3 linked regions of the Homo sapiens genome follow. Each later gene encodes a partner of the first gene's protein in a complex. Each region holds a gene or a part of one and is shown in the gene's direction. Other genes may lie near its edges. The genes, in order: CORO2A, HDAC3 and TBL1XR1.

Region 1 (6,273 bases):
CAGCAGAACACAGGCTGGAGGAGAAGAAAACCTGGCTGACAAATGGCTTTGACGTTTTCGAATGCCCCCCACCAAAGACAGAGAATGAGGTGTGAAGGAGGACGGGGTGGGCCTTTCACATGGGGCAGCTGGGGTGGAGGGGAACAGATCCAGGCTGAGAAGAAGGGAGAAAATGAGGCATGAGAAGAATAACCAGCTGTGTGGCCTGGCCTAGTCACTTGACTCATTTTGTTAATTCATTCAACAAACAGGCAGTGAGCTCCATCTTATGCCAAAATGATGGGCATACATAAAGATGGTGGGAGGCTGGGCACAGTGGCTCACTCTTGTAATCCCAGCACTTTGGGAGGCCAAGGCGGGCAGATCATGAGGTCAGGAGTTCAAGACCAGCATGGCCAACATAGTGAAACCCCATCTCTACTAAAAATACAAAAATTAGCCGGGTGTGGTGGCGTACACCTGTAGTCCCAGCTACTTGAGAGGTTGAGGCAGGAGAATGGCTTGAAATTGGGAGGTGGAGGTTGCAGTGAGCCAAGATCACACCACTGCACTCCAGCCTGGGCAACAGAGCAAGACTCCATCTTAAAAAAAAAAAAAAAAAAAGATGGTGGGGACCAGGTGACCAGGTGCAGTGGCTCACACCTGTAATCCCAGCACTTTGGTAGGCCAAGGCGGGTGGATCTCTTGAGGCCAGAAGTTTGAGACCAGCCTGGCCAACATGGCGAAACCCCGTCTCTACTAAAAATACAAAAATTAGCTGGGTATGGTGGTGCGTGCCTGTAGTCCCAGCTACTCTGGAGGCTGAGGCAGGAGAATTGCTTGAACCCAGGAGGCAGAGGCTGCAGTGAGCCAGGATCACACCACTGCGCTCCAGCCTGGGCAACAGAGTGAGACTCTGTCTCAAAAAAAAAAAAAAAAAAAAAAAAAATGGTGGGAAACCATCTGTAAAATGGAGAGGGTTTGACCTAGTGGGTATCAAAGTCTTTCCAGTTCTGACATTATAGGACTTTCTGTGCTTTCAAAGTCCACATTTGTTTAGTGCCTACTGTGTGGCAGATCCTGGGGTAGGCACTTTGATACAGCACGTGATTGAATTCTCTCAACAGCCCTGGAAGTCAGTCTGTAGTGGCTAAGAACACAGAGGCTGGCATCTCACAGATGGATTCTGATCCTGGCTCTGCTGAGTACTAATTTAGGGTCTTAGACCCAGAGACTGAATGTCTCTAAGCTTCCGTTTCCACGGTGGTACGGTGGGGACACTAGCACTGCCACCCTTATAGGGGTGTCACAACGTTCCAGTGGGATAACGAGGCCCTTAGGGCATCACTCAATATCTAACACCCATTCTGCACAGAGGGCAGTTTTCTGACCCCATTTTCCAGAGGAAGGAATGGAAGCTCAGAGTGGGTAAGTAACTTGCCCAAGGTCACACAGTTCAGTGGTGGCGAAAACACCAATCCCCAGACTTCAGAGCCAGGCATCCTTTCCTCTATTTCATGGAGGATCTATGGAAGCAAAATACATCTGAAACATTCCAGTCTTCTTGAATTTCATTTATTGGGTGAAGTAAACAAGGTGTTTGTAAAAGATCTATGCAGTGACAGCCCCATCAGGCCTCAGCCATGTTAATGTGACCGCCTCCACCTTTCTGAGTCAAAGAGGGATAGTGGTTTAGCTTTCAGCTGGTGTCCTGACACCATGGTGATCCTGCCTTCCGATCTTTCTTCCCCAGTTGCTGCAGATGTTCTACCGGCAACAGGAGGAGATCCGAAGGCTCCGGGAGCTGTTGACCCAGCGAGAGGTCCAGGCCAAACAGTTGGAACTGGAGATCAAAAACTTGCGGATGGGCTCAGAGCAGCTCTGAGCAGAGACCTCTGCCCTCCTCACCCTCAGGGACACCACTCGGCTCCATGGGGAGGTTTAGAACCAAACCACAAGTCCCCTCAAGGACAACCACTATTTCTATATTTTTTACCAGAAAACAAAACTCTCCATCGCTGAAAGAGATTCCAGTGGGACATGGTGCCGTTTTTCTGTTTGCCTTCTTGCAACAACAGTTTCTGAATTGACTTTGTTTTCAGATGATGCCTTCTGTTGAATTCTGTTATTAAGGGCCCATGATGAGCTGTAACTTCTCAAGAGGAAAGAACACAGTAGAAAACTAGAGCTGGAAGGATCTAGGTTGACCTGTCTGTGATTTTCAAACTGTGGTCCAGAGAATAGGGGAAGACTGGGCCAGACGCAGTGGCTCATGCCTGTAATCCCAGCACTCTGGGAGGCTGAGGTGGGCGGATTGCTTGAGGTCGGGAGTTTGAAACCAGTCTCACCAGGCGCAGTGGCTCACGCCTGTAATTCCAGCATGTTGGGAGGCCGAGGCTGGTGGATCACGAGGTCAGCAGTTCGAGACCAGCCTGACCAACATGGTGAAACCCCATCTCTACTAAAAATACAAAAAAATTAGCTGGGCGTGGTGGCAGGCGCCTGTAATTCCAGCGACTTGGGAGGCTGAGGCAGGAGAATTGCTTGAAACCGGAAGGCGGGGGTTGCAGTGAGCTGAGATTGTGCCACTGCACTCTAACCTGGGCAATAAGAGCAAAAGTCTGTCTCAAAAAAAAAAAAAAAAGAAAGAAACCAGCCTGGCCAACATGGTGAAACCCCGTCTCTACTAAAAATACAAAAATTAGGCAGGGCGTGGTGGTTCACGCCTATAATCCCAGAACTTTGGGAGGCCAAGCTGGGCGGATCTTCTGAGGTCAGGAGTTCAAGACCAGCCTGGCCAACATGGTGAAACCCCGTCTCCACTAAAAATAAAAAATTAACCAGGCATGGTGGTGCATGCCTGTAATCCCAGCTATTTGGGAGGCTGAGGCAGGAGAATCGCTTGAGCCTGGGAGGCGGAGGTTGCAGTGAACCAAGATCATGCCACTTCACTCCAGCCTGGGTGACAGAGTGAGACTCCGTCTCAAAAAAAAAAAGTTGGCCAGCCGTGGTGGTGAGCGTCTGTAGTCCCTGCTATTCGGGAGGCTGAGATAGGAGAATTGCTTGAACCTGGGAGGTGGAGGTTGCTATGAGCCACGATTGCGGACTGCACTGCAGCCTGGGTGACAGAGCGAGACTCCATCTCCAAAAAAAAAAAAAAAAAGAGAGAGAGAATAGGGGAAGACTAAGCAGGAAGGCTGTGTCTCCCTTCCCCACACTGTATTCCAACCAGACAGCTCCCTTCTATTTTATATGTTGGGCTAGTATGAAAAACAATTCTGCTAGGAAAAAAAAATTTTTTTAGAAGTTTGAAAGCTAGTGATTTGACCCAAGTTCCTCATTTTACAGCTGGGGAAACTAAGGCCTAGAGAGAGGCAAGTGATATTTGTTTCATGGCAGGGCTGGGCTGAGATCCTGCTTTTCTGGGTCTGTCTTTTTGCTCTTTTGGGTCTGATGCAGTTCTCAGCCCAAAGAGTAGAAATCTGTTGCTTCTGGCCTCAGCTGTGCCCCAGCTTACTCAGTGACCTCTTGCAAGTCCTGCCCTCTCTGGTCTCAGTTTCTTCATCTGAACCAGGGGTACCCTGGAACAAGCTGCTCTCTGCAGGATCTGCCACCTGAAACCTTGACCTAAGAGAAAACTACCTGTGGGGTGATCTGGGTTTGCTACAGAAACTAACGGACACTGGCAAGGGGTCAGAGGCATTCAACCCAATTCTACAACACAGGCAGGTGGTCAAAACCAACCTTTCCAACCAGAATCAGCCTGATATGGATAGATGCTGTCCCTTATGGAGGGACGCAGACTTCAGAACTGTGCCCATGACTGCTGACTGCCACCACCAAGGCCCTCAGGTACACAGCCTGCCTCCTGCAGGATGATGTGGGCAGATTTCAGCCCTAGTTAACAGAAGAGTCCCCCAGGAGGTAGGGGGCCCCCATCACTGGAGACATGCCAGCAGAGCCTCTGGCCACCTAACCAGGAGGTCTTCTGAAATGACTATACGAGGTAAAGAAGTAGTACCAGATGGTCCCAAAGTTCCCTTTTAGCCTGAAAGCTTTTCTTTGTCCCTCCTTAGTGAATCTGTGTTCCGAGCCCTACTCTAAAGTTCAGTGGTCAATACAATAGTCCACCAAGAGACTGGGAATGATTAGAAGTGAAATTGGTCCCTCCTTACCAAGGAGGGGCAGATGATCTCCATTGCACAGGGCGATTAGATTCTGGAGCTGAGGTGGGGACTGCAGGAGGCCACCTAGTCTGGTAGGTTTCAACCCAAGCTGTGTACATTAGAATTCCCTTGGGAGCGTGCAGGAAATACAGATGCCCATGCCACATTCCAGACCAACTGAAGCTGAATCTCCAGAGTAGGGCCTGTATGGTCATATAAGCTCCACAGGTGATCTGCAGTACAGTGAAGATGGAAGACTGCATGTGTACCTATTTGCAATAAAGATGAAGAGGACAGCAAGCTCCAGACAGGAGCTGGGACTCAACCCAGATCTCTTAAGTCCTGCCTGGTGGCTCCTTAAAAGTCCAGAAGTGTTGCCCCAAGCCCTCCCTCAACATCTCTGGGAACCGCAGCTGCAGCACGATGGGGGTTCAGTGCCCCTGTTTGCCCCTTACCCAGCTGTGGTTTATTCTGCTTGTATGTCTGCACAGGCCGGATGCTCGTGTTCCTTGTCTTATTCTCCATTTACTCAGTCACTGGGGCTCACTCCCGTCTGATGCACTAGCCAAGATTGCCTTAGTGTGCTCCAGAAAAGAAGGCCAAATCCCAGGCATTGTCAGGGCAGCAGAGCTCTACAGGATAGGCTTACCTTTCCCACCTGTGTGGCTAGCACTTCACAGTTTACAAATTCCTCCCACCTCCACTCAGTGACACATGCTGTTCTAACACAGGTCAGGCAGGCATTACAGTCCCCATGTTCAGAATCAAAGACCTAGCCTCAGAGAAGTGAAGAAACATCATGCCAAGGTCATTGACTGCCAAGCGGTAGAGGTGGGGTTGCATCCAGAGAGCTTCCCGGTATGCCTCTGCACAATGCCATTCCTTGGCCAGCTCCCTCCACCCCAAGGGACCCAGACTGCACACTTAACAAACAGGACACAGGTGTCTTTGAACAAACTTTTTTGTATTATTATTTTTACATCTAGAATAAATTATTTAAATTATTTCACAGCAAGGGAGAGGGATAGGTAATTTTTATCAGATATTTTTTTAAACCATCTGTTTTTTAAATTACATTTTTGTTTATGTTCTTGAGCTGATGTAGTGGAACTTGCCTAGCACATTCAGGTCCCAGCCAGTTGGCAGAGCATGCTCTCATCTCCTTATTCCATACCCTGGGCGTCCCCTTTCTGTTGACTCAGGAACTTTCTGAGAATGAGGACAGCACTAGGAGATGAGCTTTGGCAGGTATCCACCTTAACGCTACAATAATTGTGCTTCCTGAAACAAAACTTGAGATTGTATCATAGAAGGAAACAGGAAGTCAGAAATCAAATCTATGCTTTTAATTGAAACCGTGCCTGAAACAGTTTGAATGATTGTTTTAATGTTGTTTCTGAAATTCCTTGTACCTTTGTGAAAAATAATGATAATAAATAAAAGTGAAAATAAATAGATGTGGAATATGCAATGGAAATAATGTAACAAAATAATAAACATCTGGCCATTTTACTACAAGGAGCTTTCCTTTTCTTGATTTGTTCCACAAATACCAATTAACTATCTACTCTTGGAGTCAGACACCAAGCTGGAAAACAGGCAGAACAGACAGTCTTTGCCCTCTCCAGTTTTCAGTCATGGCTGCGGGAATGGGGAGGGCCAGGATAGGGAAAGCATAGGCTGTTCTGGAAGGAGAAGGAGGGAAGGCTTCCTGGAGGAAAAGATAGTAAGGTAGAAACCTGCAGAGTAAGTTGGAATACTCAGGGCAAAGGGCATTTGGGAAGAAGAATGTTCCAAGCAGGGTAAACTGCACGTCCCCCAGTCTTGAAAAAGCACAGGGTGGAGCATAGGCAGGGCGGAGACCAAGGATCTTAAGAAAGAGCTGAGGGCTTTATAAGTGGAAGTCTAGACTTGAGCCTGGGGGGGCAACTGGAATTTGGGGTGGTGGTGTGTGTGTGAAAGTTGTCAGTACCAAAACAGAGTCACTTACATCAAAACCAAACTAAATGGTGCTCCTGTAGTCCCAGCTACTCCAGAGATGAGGTGGGAAGATCACTTGAGCCCAGGAGTTAGAGGCTGCAGTGAGCTATGATCGCACTATTGCACTCCAGCCTGGGCAACAGAGCGA
Region 2 (7,110 bases), on another chromosome or scaffold:
GACCTCCCATACGTCCATCACCTAGCTTCAACGCTTATGAGCAAATGGCCACTCTTTTTTTTTTTTTTTTTTTTTTTGAGACAGAGTCTCACTCTGTAGCCCAGGCTGGAGTGCAGTGGTGCAGTCTTGGCTCACTGCAACCTCTGCCTCCTGGGTTCAAGCGATTCTCATGCCTCAGACTCCCGAGTAGCTGGGATTACAGGCGCCTGCCACCATGCCTGGCTAATTTTTGTATGTTTAGTAGAGATGGGGTTTCACTATGTTGGTCAGGCTGGTTTTGAACTCCTGACCTCAGGTGATCCACCAGCCTCAGCCTCCAAAAGTGCTGGGATTACAGACGTGAGCCATCGCACCCAGCTGAGCAAGTGGCCACTCTTACTTCATCTATACTCCCTCATGTTAGATTGTTTTAAAGCAGATCCTAGATGTTATATCCTTTTATCCATAAATATTTTATTATGTATCTCTAAATGATACTCTTTTAAAAAAACATAGTATCATTATCAAACCTAAAAAGTTAACAGTGATTCCTTAATGTCATCAAATATGGGATCAATATTCAAATTTCTGCAGTTGTCTCATAATTATTTTGTAGCTAATTTAAATCCAGATCTAAACAAGGTCTATACAGTGCATTTGGTTGATATGTCTCTTAAGACTTTTAATTTGTAGCTTTTCTGTCACCCCCTTGAATTTATTTCTTGAAGAAACCAGGTTGTTGATCCTGTAGAATTTCTTATGATAGCTACCATTTACTGAGTGCTTACTCTGCTAGGTATTATGCCAAGGGTTGCTGGTAAATCCACTTAATTCTCATACCAATCCTTAGATGTATTATAATAGACCTTTTTCTGATGTTATATATAAGTAAATTGAGGTTTGGGAATATCTAGGTAACTTAGCCGTAGTCACATAACTGGTCATTGGAGGGGGCATGATCCAGATCCCGGGTTTTTAAACCACTAATCTGTTTTCCTGAAAGATCTTAATGACAGAAGCAGCCAGGGCTGTAGGATAGAGGCCAACTCATTAGGCTGGCATTGGCACCTTTCCAACTTTATCCCTACACCTCAGCTGCACAGGATGCCTTCCTGGAATGCCCTTAGTTCTCTATTCAACCTCTTCAAGGCCTTCTCAGCCTTCACACCATCTCCATGAAACCTTTCTTGACCACACCAGCCCATAGAGCTCTGTCTTGCACACACTGCACTGCTCATTTGGTGTTCAGTCACATGCTGTTTGGGGAGGTTTCTTGTTTTTTTGTTAGTATTCCTGCTGTTATTTCTGAGCTCACTTTCTAGCTCTGTGAATACAGGGTCAGCCCTTACGCCACACTGGGGTCCCGTAGATGCTCTTTGTGCGATTAGGGAATGCTAATTAGAATACTATCTCTGGGCTATTTATGCTGCATCAGTCTTCCTGTCAAACAAGTTACAGTTGTGCTTATCTGTATTTCCGATGAGAATCAGGAATTTTTCTTCTGTTTAATGAATTTCTGATTGGTTTCAAAGTATTCTAACATAAGTAGCCAAATTGTACTATAGGCCTTTAAATGAAAAAAATAAAAAAGTAGTCCCAAGCCGGGCGCAGTGGCTCACGCCTGTAATCCCAGCACTTTCGGAGGCCGAGGCGGGTGGACCACCTAAGGTCAGGAGTTCAAGACCAGCCTGGCCAACATGGTGAAACCCCATCTCTACTAAAAATACAAAAATTAGTCATGTGTGGTGGCACGTGCCTGTAGTCCCAGCTACTCCAGGAGGCTGAGGCAGGAGAATTGCTTGAACCCGGGAGTTGGAGGTTGCAGTGACCTGAGATTGCACCACTGCACTCCAGCCTGGGCAACAGAGTGAGACTCTGTCTTAAAAAAAAAAAAAAAAAAAAATTCCAGACCTCTCCTTTTCACCCATAAATCCCTCTGCCCAGTGACAGCCACTTTCAGCTCCTTTCCCCTATGTCTTCTGGTATTTACCTTTGGATTTCTAAATAATAATATTAATTGACTGTTATTACTAATCTGTAATCCTTAGGTAATACCTGTTATATACTAGGTACTGTTCTAAGTGCTTTACAGCCATTAGCTTATTTAATCTCAACAACCCCTATGAAGCAGGGTCTATTATTGTTTCCTTTTACCGATGAGGACACTTAAGCACAGAAAGGTTAAACAGTTTGTACAACCTCACTATCATTAGTAGGTGTTAAAGAACCTAGGTAGTCTAGCTCCAGAATCGGTGCTTGTAATCATACTCCCCTCCTGTATTGTCTCTCATTGCTATTTCTTCGTCTGTCAATTTTAGGCATTATCTGTTAAGCTTTTAGTATGGGATATGAGCATTTAGTCTTCTTACACCATCACATTGGCTTCCTTTCCCCTTTCAGCTTCATAGTAATTTAAAAATAAATCAGTATTCTGTGTTTACATTATTATAACTCTGAAAGATTCATTTACTATCAAGCCAAATAGTGTAGTGTGATTTAATCTATTTTCTTCTAAAGCTTTTTGTTTTTCCTGGAGCTGACAATTGCATTATTTTTTCATTTGCTTAGTTTTCTGGTATTAATCACTAATTCTTTCCAAGCCTTTTGAGAAACTATAAAACCCTACAATTCTTGCTTGAACCCGGGAGGCGGAGGCTGCAGTGAGCCGAGATCGCACCATTGCACCCCAGCCTGGGCGACAGAGCAAGACCCCATCTCAAAAAACAAACAAACAAAAAACCCCTACAGTTCTGTTTTTCACATGGTCAAATGTATCAGCTGCACTATTTTTTTTTTTTGAGACCTAAAACTAGGGATTGCCTAAGCCTTTCCTTTTTAAAAAGTCAGGTTTATATAGGTATAACTTGCATACAGTAAAATTAACCTTTTTTAGGTGTAAGAGTTCTGAGAGGTTTGATAGAATATATCAAGGTATAGGGCCAGCGCCGATGGCTCACACCTGTAGTCCCAACAATTTGGGAGGCCAAGGCGGGAGGATCACTTAGGCCCAGGAGTTTGAGACCAGCTTGGGCAACATAGTGAGACCCTGTCTCTACAAAAAAAAAAAAAAAAAAGGTATCAAGGTACAGGAAATTTCCACTACCCAACAAAGGTCACTCACCCTTTTGTAGTTAATAACTTCTCTGCAACCTAGATCCAGCCAACTACTGATAAGATGTCTGTCCTTGTATTTTACCTTTTCCAGAATGTTACATAAATGGAGTCATACAGTAAGTAGGCTTTTGTGTCTGGCTTCAAGCCTTTACTTTTTATAAAGAATAACAATGGTAATAATTATAGCTGACATTTATTAAAGGCTGAGCGGATACTGTATACTGTGCTACAGGCTTTTCGTGGGTTATCTCATCACTGTTTCACATATGTAGGTATACAGTTCTTTCTTTAAAATATGTGACTGAAAAATATTATTGAACATTATGCTAAAATTTGTTACACTGAGAAGACTAAGAAAAACAGAGCTCATGTTTTCTTTCAACTGATTTCCTTTTTACATTGTACTTGAGTACCTGGAAGCTGCTTGCTTCTTTCCGCAGCTAGGATACAAACTCCCTGACAGTTAAGTGCTTCTTTACTTCCCATCCAGTGCCTTGCACAGGGCTTGGTACATGGTTTGGTCCAAAATATTTGTTGAATAAATTTGCAGATAGCCCACGTGTGTAGGAGAGGGAGAGAAGGTTCTTGAAAAATGGAGATTGGAGGAATCTAGGATGGGGAGGGAGATATGGGAAGGGCCCAGACAGAGGCAGGAGGGTTCCAACTTGTTCCTCTTCCCTGCAGCCCAGTGTTTCCCGGGCTCTTTGAGTTCTGCTCGCGTTACACAGGCGCATCTCTGCAAGGAGCAACCCAGCTGAACAACAAGGTGACATAGTCCCGAGTCCTGTTCTTCCTTTCCTCTGGATCCCTGGACTCGGGATTTAACCCTGATCCTGGGCTCCCAGCTTGAGGGGTGGGCAGGAAGGACTGTGACTTAGGTGTTTGTCTTTCAGATCTGTGATATTGCCATTAACTGGGCTGGTGGTCTGCACCATGCCAAGAAGTTTGAGGTGAGTGAGGAGGTGATGGGAAAGACAGTGGCCATCCTAGGGTAGGTGTTTAGGATGATGGTGGGGGGCAGCTGGGAGGGGAATTGCTCTTCTCTTTATGAGACCACTGTCTTGCCATAGGCCTCTGGCTTCTGCTATGTCAACGACATTGTGATTGGCATCCTGGAGCTGCTCAAGTAAGTAGCCCAGGAGGAGATGGGGGCAGTTACGGGATTCTTGGCTGAGGAGGTCTCTCAGTCTCAACCCTGACCTTGACCTCCCTCCTCCCTGATTAGCTTCTCCCAAGTTCTTGATGCTTTATTCAGGCTGCCTCTTCCACTGCTGCAGATTCCCTACTGCCTGCTCACATTTCAGCCTTCTCTGCATATCCCTCTCCTGTCCCTGCCTCTAGCCTCTAGGCTGGAGCCCCCAGTTGCCTTTAGGGAACTGGTGACATTAAGTTTCAGGTGACCAGGGCAGAAGCAGACTCTTCACAATTCGAGACCCGGTGTTTGAGAGGAGTGGGTTGGGGGGTTCACTTCTAGCTCAGACCCTGGCTTTGGCTTCCCTCTAGGTACCACCCTCGGGTGCTCTACATTGACATTGACATCCACCATGGTGACGGGGTTCAAGAAGCTTTCTACCTCACTGACCGGGTCATGACGGTGTCCTTCCACAAATACGGAAATTACTTCTTCCCTGGCACAGGTATGGGAATAGGGATTACTTTCCCCTTTGCACCCTTCAGCTCTTTACTATGAGTGCCTCCTTCTCAGCCTTCTAGTCTCATCTCAGGTGTCCCCTCCTCAGAGAAGCCTTTCCTTACCACTCCAGTTATCATAATCACCTCCTTCCCCATTCCTCTGTTACATCAGCCTCATTGTTTCCCTCAGAACACTCACTGCTATTTGTGTTTATTGTGGTTTTTTGTTTTGTTTTGTTTACTGCCTCCCTCCTCCTCATGGCTATTCCCTAAGAATATAAGCGTGGTGGGATATCGTAAATTTCATTAGTTCCATTCGTTGCTGCATCCCTACTGCCTAGTACACAGTTGGCTCAGAGTGGATCCCCCAAAACTATTTGCCCAATGAATGCAAGCTGCAAGAGATTTAGTGGCTCTAGGGAGTTTATGGTGAAGCTACATAGATGGAATGAGAGGCTCCCAGAGTGCAGATTGGGGCTGAAACAGCTGGGTTGTGGGTGCTTCCCATGTGTGGCTACCACCACCCACTTCCCTACAGGTGACATGTATGAAGTCGGGGCAGAGAGTGGCCGCTACTACTGTCTGAACGTGCCCCTGCGGGATGGCATTGATGACCAGAGTAAGTACCGAAGTCTTCCCTCTGTTCCCTAGGCCCCTTCTTTTTCTCCTTGAAATAACCTCTTCTGCCTGGTATTGTCTGCTGTTGGGCCAGTTGTCCTTAAGGATGAATGGCCTTCAGAGGGACCATGAATCTCTGGAAATTGTATGCAACATATCATGTGTATGTGCATTTTTCTGGGAAAAGTCATTGGCTTTCATCAGTCACTCATAGCAGTCTGGGATCCCTTCCAGAAGTTTCAGACCAGTGATTTGATTCTTTTGGGTGGCCCCTTTCCTGGGCTACATGCTCGCTCAACCCCCTTTTTCCTTTTGTTCCCTGTCTCCCCATCCCCTTGGGGTGCCAGGTGCCCATCTTTGGCCCTCTCCCAGGTTACAAGCACCTTTTCCAGCCGGTTATCAACCAGGTAGTGGACTTCTACCAACCCACGTGCATTGTGCTCCAGGTAATACTGTCAGTTCCTCCTCAGGAGTGTTCTGCCTGGGCTTGGGGAAAGAGAGCAAGGGAAGAGGAGGTTCTTTAGGTTGGTGGTGGAAGGGGTATCTGTGATGTTCTGATCAGTTCTGATCACTGCACTTTCCTGGGGTTTTGCTTTTTGCAGTGTGGAGCTGACTCTCTGGGCTGTGATCGATTGGGCTGCTTTAACCTCAGCATCCGAGGGCATGGGTGAGACTTGCTCTCCTTCTTCTCCCCAAGGTTTTTAAGTGGCCTTGGACTTCAGTACGTGGGTGGGGGTAGTTGGGGAATGGGCCTCACCTCTTCTTGGAAATCAAAAATAGCTACAAATTGTACTTGAACTAGAAATGTCATCTTGAACAGGGTTCCCTAGATGGTCATTCATTCACGATATATTTTTATTAAGCACCTGTTATGTTCCAGGCATCATACCACATCATGGGGATGGAATAAGGAGTCTCCCATGGAGTTTACAGTTTAGGAAACAGACAAAAAATAAATAATCAAATGAAATAAATAGATTCTTATAAATTCTGTGAAAGAAAAAAAGAAAGCTGAGACACAGGATACAATGGGGGACCTACTTGAGATAGCATGGTTTCGGAAAGTTTTTCTGAGGAAGTAAAATTTGAGTTGAGACCTGGAGACTAAGAAGGAGTGAGTCATAAGAGGAGCAGAGAGAAGCCTGACCCAAGCATGGACAAAGGCCCACAAAAGGCTCTGAGGGCTGGGCCCAGTGGCACACACCTATAATCCCAACACTTCCAGAGGCCAAGGTGGGAGAATCGCCTGAGGCTAGGAGTTTGAGGCCAGCCTGGGCAACATAGTGAGAGCCATCTCTACAGAAAATAAAAAACAAAATCAGCTGGGCATGATGGTGCATGCCTATAGTCCTAGCTACTCAGGAAGCTGAGGCAGGAGGATCACTTGAGCCTAGGAGTTTGAGGTTACAGTGAACTATGATTGTGCCACTGGACTTCAGTCTGTTGAGGTGAGGTCCGAGAAGCTGGCCATGGTGAGATTGTGCAGAGCCTTTAAACCCTGGTAAGGAGTTTGAATTATATTCCAAAGATGATGGGAAACCATTGAAGGATTTTAAGCAGGAAAGTGACATGATCCAATTTGTGTTTGAAAGTGACAATTCTGACTGCTGAATAGAGAAAGGTTTGGGTAGGGGGGATGGAGATGGAAGTAGAAAGACCAGTTAGGAAGCCATGGTGTTGGTTAGGTGCCCAGACTAAGGTGGAGGGGGTGGCAATGGAGAGAAGTAGATGATCTGAGAGGTGTGTGTGTGTGTGTGTGTATATATA
Region 3 (7,560 bases), on another chromosome or scaffold:
AAAGGTCACAAGCAACACGCTATGCACTGAAGGAGAAAAGCAGCTTGTGTACTGACATCTTGAGATGTGTGGTTGGCATGTGCCTCATCTCGGAAGAACCACAAAGAATTGCACAAGGTAAGTCAAAATGAAACGGAAACATCACAGAGTATCAGCAAGACGCCTGGGGGTAAACGCTACAGACGTAAAGCCACTGAATTCCAGGGTGAGTAAAGAATATAAAATGAGTTATAGCACTAGGAGAATATTTTTGGTATCAAATGTCTTTTTTATACAATTAAGTTTGTTTTGAATACTTTATGTAGATGAGCTAATGTAAACAATTTAAAACATCATGATGATTTAAAAATATATATAGTAATGAGACCCTGTAGTCCTGGGATTGAAGCAGTTTCAATTTAAAATGTTCCATGTCTTTAGCGATGAAAGTTGCAAATGTGTAGGCTATCTTGCCATGCCACACTCCTCTCGGAAAAATATTACTGAAATAAAACAAGTCAGGATTTGTTTTTTTTTTTTTTTTTTTTTTGAGATGTAATCTCACTCTGTCACCCGCCCAGGCTGGAGTGCAATGGCAAGATCTCGGCTCACTGCAACCTCCCCCTCTCGGTTTCAAGCCATTCTTCTGCCTCAGCCTCCTGAGTAGCTAGGATTACAGGCATGTGCCACCACGCTCAGCTAATTTTTGAATTTTTAGTAGAGACGGGGTTTCACCATGTTGGTCAGGCTGGTCTCGAACTCCCGACCTCGTGATCCGCCCGCCTCGGCCTCCCAAAGTGCTGGGATTACAGGTGTGAGCCACTGCACCCGGCAAAACAAGTCAGGATTTGTTTAGCCATTTTACAATATATAGTAACTTCTGATAACAGTTACTGGTATGAGGTTTCTCTTCATTGAGTAATTAGCTAGAAAATTCAAGAGAGAACTTTTTTTTTTTGAGACGGAGTCTCACTCTGTCGCCTAGGCTGGAGTGCAGTGGCACTATCTCGGCTCACTGCAACCTCCGCCTCCAGGGTTCAAGCGATTCTCCTGCCTCAGCCTCCCAAGTAGCTGCGATTACAGGCACCCGCCACCACGCCCGACTAATATTTTGTATTTTTAGTACAGACGAGGTTTCACCATGTTGGCCAGGCTGGTCTTGAACTCCCGACCTCAAGTGATCTGCCCACCTCAGCCTCCCAAAATGCTAGGATTACAGGCGTGAACCACCACACCCAGCGGAGAACTTAATGTGTTCCTTTGCTTTACAATTTCTTAGTAATACAGTAATATCTCCTTTCTAGAAACACATTAACATTTAATTCAAAGTGTAATGGGAGTGTTAGATTAGGACAAAGTACTGAATATTAGTAACAATAGTTCCTTCTTTGTCCTTTCCTCACCCAGTGAGTCTAATCATTGCTTGTATTTTGGTGCAGCCCTGATCCTTTATGCTGGATATGTTGGGACAGCTAGAGGGCGAGGCGACAATACATATGACCTTTGAGTGATGGTTTATTTCTCTGAGTATTTAACATTGAAGCCACACTGTTGTTTCAGATAGTTTCCAGAATATAAAAATCAAAGGGATCAAAATATGATCTGATTTAAAACCCCCTTTGCTGGAAGAATCAAGGCCTTTCCACATTTGGGTGCCCCTATTTTTGTTTGTTTGTTTAAAAACACTCCAGGCTGCCGGGCACAGTGGCTCACGCCTGTAATCCCAACACTTTGGGAGGCTGAGGCAGGCAGATGACTTGAGGTCGGGAGTTTGAGACGAGCCTGACCAACATGGAGAAACCCCATCTCTACTAAAAATACAAAATTAGCCAGGCGTGGTGGTGCATGCCTGTAATCCCAACTACTCGGGAGGCTGAGACAGGAGAATCGCTTGAACCTGGGAGGCAGAGGTTGCAGTGAGCCGACATTCCGCCATTGCACTCTAGCCTGGGCGACAAGAGCGAAACTCCACCTAAAAAAAAAAAATGTACTCCTGCTCTCTCCTCTCTCTTCAATTAGTATGATCCAACAGTGGTGAGTAAAGTACATTTTACTGCAACGGATTTGTAAGTCCCCAGCCTCGATGATCTTCATATTTAAATGCAGTCATTTACGCACAGAAATGTCTTGTAAACTACAGGGATATAAACAAATGCATGGATTATTATCATTGTGAGGAGGCTCAACTAACACTGAACAACTTTAGGAGGCAGCTTGGTGTAGGGTATAAGAACTTCAGGCTGGAAGACCTGATCCTATGAACCTGAAGGAGGGTGTCTCCTCCCTTGTGGAATAAGGGATAGAAGTCATTTAGGGGAAGGAGAAGGGGTGGGGTGGGCAGCTTTGAATATGACGCTTTAAGAATGGTATGGTTGAGAAGTCCTCACTCACTGAAAGTGGGGTTTGATTTTACAGTCACTGCTGTATGGAGAGGACCCGCCCGTGGTGGCACAATATGAAACTTAAAAAATAATCTAAGCCAATAGATATGTTTCATTGAGTGGCTCCACCGAGATAGTTTACTTACTGAAGACAGGGTATGTTTAGTGATATCTACGTCATTTATCAACTCAAAAAAAAAAAAAGGAAGATACTATATACTCTTTTCAATTCTGAAATAAAGTCTTCTGAAAGGTGTTAGTTCTGAGGTAAACAAGCCTCAGCTTTAGAATCCTATTGAAATGCAAAACTTGCTTTGTGCGGTTTCCCTGTACACTCTGCATAGTGTTTTGGAAACCTGCAGTTATCTAAATTCCCATCGGGTGACATTGTTTAATCCAACATTCCCACTTTCATACATGAAAATAGCTCTAAGGACACACCACTAATATGCTTTGAACTCTCTGGTGGTTGGAAGGGAGTTTCCAATCCCACTCCCTTTCCTCTGATGGTTTTCCTGCTCCCTGCCCCACTAGGTCATTCAGGAAAGGCCTCTGGCAGCTCCCCCAAGCAAGGGCTCAGGGGGGAAAGAGACATTGACCTTGGCCAAGAAAGCACCTGTCTAATTACTGAACTTATTAGGCCACCAGGAGTCCAGACTGGTGCAAGTTACGAGTAGTGTGTGTGTGTGTGTGTGTGTGTGTGTGTGTGTGTGTGTGTCGCAAAACTTCAGGTTTCTGATATTGAGAGGAAATGATGGTTGCTTTAAAGTGATCACTACATCTATTTTCAAATATTCTGATGAAAGTAGGAAAACAGAACCCTTCACCTTTAAGAAAGCTGCAAACATTATTTTGCTTTGAAGGCAGTAATAAGCGAAATAACAAAAAGGTTTCAAGTCGTATCTTAATGTAAAAGGGTGGCTGCTTCTCCAGTCCTGAGCTTATACAAAGCTCTAAAAAGCACCCTACCCCATCTTTCTGAAAGTCTTAGAAAGATTACCACCCCATTTGCTTTAAAACCTGTGAGGTGCCTCCCTTCTTTAAAAACAACCCTCCCTCAACCATACTGCCACATTATCACTCATCTAAGTTATACTTTATAAACCGCCTTGCTGTGCTTCACACATGCAAAAAGTACACAAAGTGGATAAACTTCTACTGTGGATGCCACTGTGCAGGTATATATTTAGTAAACATTTAGTTACATTATTTTATTTTTGTGAAATAAGAACTGATCGAGCAAACCTTTCAAACAGACCCACCAGATGATAAATACCACCATATGCTTGATTCACAGTACATTTGGGCATAAATACTTCAATTACAGCTTTGTGTTTAGTATCAAAAACCTTTTCTTGTGTGCGTGTTTTCTCTCCAGATCCCGTGCTCTGGATCACATTTTGAAAGTCGCTTATTACAGATAAAGCACCTTTCCAGGTACGCTTCGGAGAACCATATGTATTTACGCACACAAAGGTGTTCACAGAGATTTTCACAAACAAATGTCCATATGATGCCGCGCCGCACTCCCCCACATGCCCGCCGCGTGTGCGCCCAGCCCCCAACGCCGCCGGGCCGCCCCCCGGACACGCGGGAGCCCGCGGCGTCCTTGGGGAAACTTCGCCGGCGGCTCCACCCCGGCCACCGCGCGGGCCTCCCCGCCCCCACCCGTCTCGGGCCCAGCGGCCCACACCCGAGCACACCCAGGCCGGCCCGCGGCGGTGGGGGCGGGGCGGGCGGCCCGGGGCCCCGAGGCGCCTTCGAGTGCCCGCGGGGCTCGCCTGATTTTTAAAAGAATGCGCCGCACAGCCCAGCCCCCAGTGCCGCCAGAGCGGGCCGGGAAGGAGAGGAGCGCGGCCGCTGGAGCCCCCCCGCCGCGCCGCCGCCGCCTCCCGGCGTCCGCGGCGCCCCTCCCCCGCCGGCCCCTCCCCCGCGCGCCCGCCCGCCCGCTCGCCCGCCCGCCCGGCGCAGGCCGCTCGGGTTTGTTTTGCTGCGCGGCCGCCGCCGCCGCCGCCGCCGCGGGCCTCGCGAGCTCATTTGTGCCTGGCTGGTCCCCATTCCTCTCTCCCCAGTGTTGAGTGTCTGAGCCGTTGGCTGCTCCGAACCGTTTGGCTCTTTCCCTTAGTAACAGCTTTTACCTTCTGCCTCAATTCCTCTCCCCGCTCGCGCCCTTCCCCCGCGCGCCGCCTCCCCCCGCCGCCGGCCGCGTGCGCCCCCGCCCCTCCCCCCGCGGCGGGAGCACCTCCGCTCGCCACCTGGGGACCCGCGCCGCGCTCCCCGCCCCCGCCCGCCCGGCGCCCATCCCCCGCGCCCTCCGCTCGCTGGGGTTATAATTGCCTCTCACCCCCCGGAGGGGTTATTTTGGGGGTGGTTGGAGGCGGTGGCGGCGGCGGCGAGGAGGGGAATTTCCTTGTGCCTCCATTCCCGGGAGGGGGGAGCGGCGTTGGAGGCCACCGTTTCCAGGTAAGCGCTGGGGGCCGGACCCTGGAGTGGGGGCGGCCGGGGGCCTGGGCGGGGGGCGCGGGCCAGAGGCGGCCGGGGGCGCTGGGCCGCGGGGGGATGGGCGCGAGTGGAACATGCATTTTTCAACTTGGCCCTTGGGGGAACTGGGCTTGCGTGGGGGAAGGGAAGGCAGGGAGGGCACTTGGGGCGCCCCCATCCCCCCGTTTTCCTCTCTCAGGTTTCTTTGAAATGCTCACGTGCCTGCCCACCCCCCTACCCTTTCCCGGTCTCGGGGGATCCTCACCCTAATTATGTTGTCCCCGAAAATGTGCACCTCGGCCTTCTCCCCCTCTTCCTCCCTTCGTGCATTTACACCCCCTTTTTGTGCGTGTGTGTTTGGGGGGGGAGGCTTTCAGGAAAGGATTTGCAGCAAATTGAATCAAGGAGCCATCATGAGGCCGACTCCTTTATAGCCTATTTTTAGCAGAGGAGAAGGAGCTTTTCGGTGCATGCTATTTTGTGAAACCTCGGGCGGCAATGGAAATCTCCCCTCCCCGGGCGCGTCCCCGGCCCGGGCGCGGCGACCCCGGCCGGCGTGCTGGGGGCTGCGGGCGGCTGTTGGGGCCGCGCGTCCGGGGCGGGGGCGCCGGCCGGGGGAGGGGCGCGCGGCAGCCGGGCCTTGCTCCGGGACGTGTTTATTTGTAACTTAGTGCTTTTTATCGTCTTAAGGAGGTATTTGGTGGAGGCTCTTTGAAGTTGGGTTCAGGAGTGTAGAATTGGCAAAGTTATTGCCAGCTTCCTGGTAAGTTTTGGGTGGCACAGAGTCACGTTATTTTCTGACAGTGTAAAGGCCACGTTGTGAGGGTGGTTTCTCGGTAACTTCCTCTTTGCAACCGATTTAATTTTTTGAACAGAAGCAGACTTTTATTTAAGTGGAATATTAATCTTAAATGGCAGCTCGAGGGAAGCCATGCATGTGTTAACGTGTTCAGTATTTTTGGAAGTTCTTAATTTGCTGAAACAGGCATCACTTCGCAGTGGCAACCGGGATTAAATTTAGGTTGTGAAAATGGTGTATTTCATGTAAAATTTGGGTTGTGGCTTTTAAAAAATGCTCTCTTTGTTAGGTTATCTAAGTGTCTCTAAGATAATTTGGTGATTACAAATGAGAAATGTTGGAAACTAGTTAAAAATTAGGTGTTCTCAGTGTCTGGAGTTTACTTGAAATCTTGGACTGTGCAGGCACCAGGGGTGAAGAGTTTTAGTACCTATGTGATTTACAGTTGACTTAGGAAAGTTTACTATTCACTTTCTTGTTTTCCAAACAGGAACCGTATGCTGATCTAAACAAGCTTGTTAATAAAATGTGGGGGGTGAAAATGCCAGGTTATTTTTAGTTTGAATTTTAAGACTGAATGGTTGCTCTACCCCCCACCTCATATAATTAAGTGATCTTCCCCCTCCGTTTTTCCTAAAGGCTTCTTCACCAGTTTGGATAATAAGGCCCTCGTGGTGTGTTCATCTACTTACCTGAAATAACTTGGAATAAATAATTTCGATTACACGTTGAAGATACAATGAGTGACTGTTTGGGTTTTCCAGTGTGATTCATTTTCATTTTTGTTAAAATAAGACCCATGCTACATTGATGTATTTTAGTAATGCCGACTTCCTGGGATTGTATGTTCTCACCATTTTAATAGTTTATAGTCTGGGGAAGTAGGGCACCTTTGTCTCCCCGAAAACATGGTGTGGGTTGGGTGGTATCATGGGAGTTGATGGCAAGCTTCCCAAATAGTTGAGAGTTCTAGAAATAGTTAGCATTTACCTGTGGGGGAGGGGCTGCAGGAAGAAAGTATGCCTGAGAGCAGTTAGGCGTGTGATGTGTGATTAGGCTTCTTGCTCTTAAATCCAGGTTTTCTTGTTTGGAATATGATTTTTTTTTTCAACCCTATCCTGCACTGAGATGTATGTAATCGCAATCATTAAATTCATAAATAACTACTATTTTTTTTGACGTTTGAGTTGTTGGAATCCGACCTACAGGACAAAATACTAAACTGTATGGGGGACGAAAACTACGTGCCTGGGAAAAGTTTTTCTTATTGCTAAGGAACTTAATAAAGTGACATGTTAATGGCATAAAAATTGTTGCAAAGCTCACCGTCAGTTTATGACATTTTTCTTTTAACGTATACCAGCTTTGGGTATTAATGTGGGAGACACTGGTGGTAAATGGAGTGACCCCTTGCAGAGATGATATTTTTGCATTGGTTGCTTCAAAGAAGTGTTAAGCATTTTAATACGTATGTCTAAGAATCTTTTTGATATTTGTATTCTCGACACCTAATTAAAGGTTTTGCATGATTACCATGACACCAGTCTCCCGAAAGAATTAGAGGTAACTGCTTCCTGTGTTCTAGGAGCCTTTCAAGCTAACAGAAGGTAATATAAATATAAGGGGTACTGATAAAAGGAAATGTATTAATAGACCTTTTGAACATCAACTTGTTGATTAAATCTATCAGTGCAGTATATATACAACCTTGTCAGACGAGTAGCTGACAAAGGAATCTCCCTAGTACAACTTGTAGCAGTACTATTATAAAGAATTCCTGACTTGACACATTTTGATGAAGTTGGTTGAAATAATTTGTTGGGTTTGTTCAATTTTTGGTGTCATTTATATAAAAAGAATAAAGAAGAATGTGAATGGTAGGAAGTCAGGGGAGAGGCATGGCAGAAACATTGGTATTCA

The links.
Region 2: CORO2A (region 1) and HDAC3 share a complex: the UniProt entries of both Homo sapiens proteins name them as parts of the N-Cor repressor complex.
Region 3: CORO2A (region 1) and TBL1XR1 share a complex: the UniProt entries of both Homo sapiens proteins name them as parts of the N-Cor repressor complex.

What each region holds. Positions count from the first base shown.
Region 1 is NC_000009.12:98,120,365-98,126,637, reverse strand, and holds the end of CORO2A (coronin-2A), read left to right. Parts: coding exon 1-89; intron 90-1,732; coding exon 1,733-1,864; 3' UTR 1,865-5,663; downstream 5,664-6,273.
Region 2 is NC_000005.10:141,626,793-141,633,902, reverse strand, and holds part of HDAC3 (histone deacetylase 3), read left to right. Parts: intron 1-3,777; coding exon 3,778-3,859; intron 3,860-3,986; coding exon 3,987-4,043; intron 4,044-4,163; coding exon 4,164-4,219; intron 4,220-4,596; coding exon 4,597-4,730; intron 4,731-5,263; coding exon 5,264-5,344; intron 5,345-5,690; exon of another isoform or gene 5,691-5,715; coding exon 5,716-5,789; intron 5,790-5,945; coding exon 5,946-6,010; intron 6,011-7,110. UniProt on the Homo sapiens protein: Histone deacetylase that catalyzes the deacetylation of lysine residues on the N-terminal part of the core histones (H2A, H2B, H3 and H4), and some other non-histone substrates.
Region 3 is NC_000003.12:177,194,384-177,201,943, reverse strand, and holds the start of TBL1XR1 (F-box-like/WD repeat-containing protein TBL1XR1), read left to right. Parts: upstream 1-4,461; 5' UTR 4,462-4,823; intron 4,824-5,465; exon of another isoform or gene 5,466-5,604; intron 5,605-7,560. UniProt on the Homo sapiens protein: F-box-like protein involved in the recruitment of the ubiquitin/19S proteasome complex to nuclear receptor-regulated transcription units. Plays an essential role in transcription activation mediated by nuclear receptors.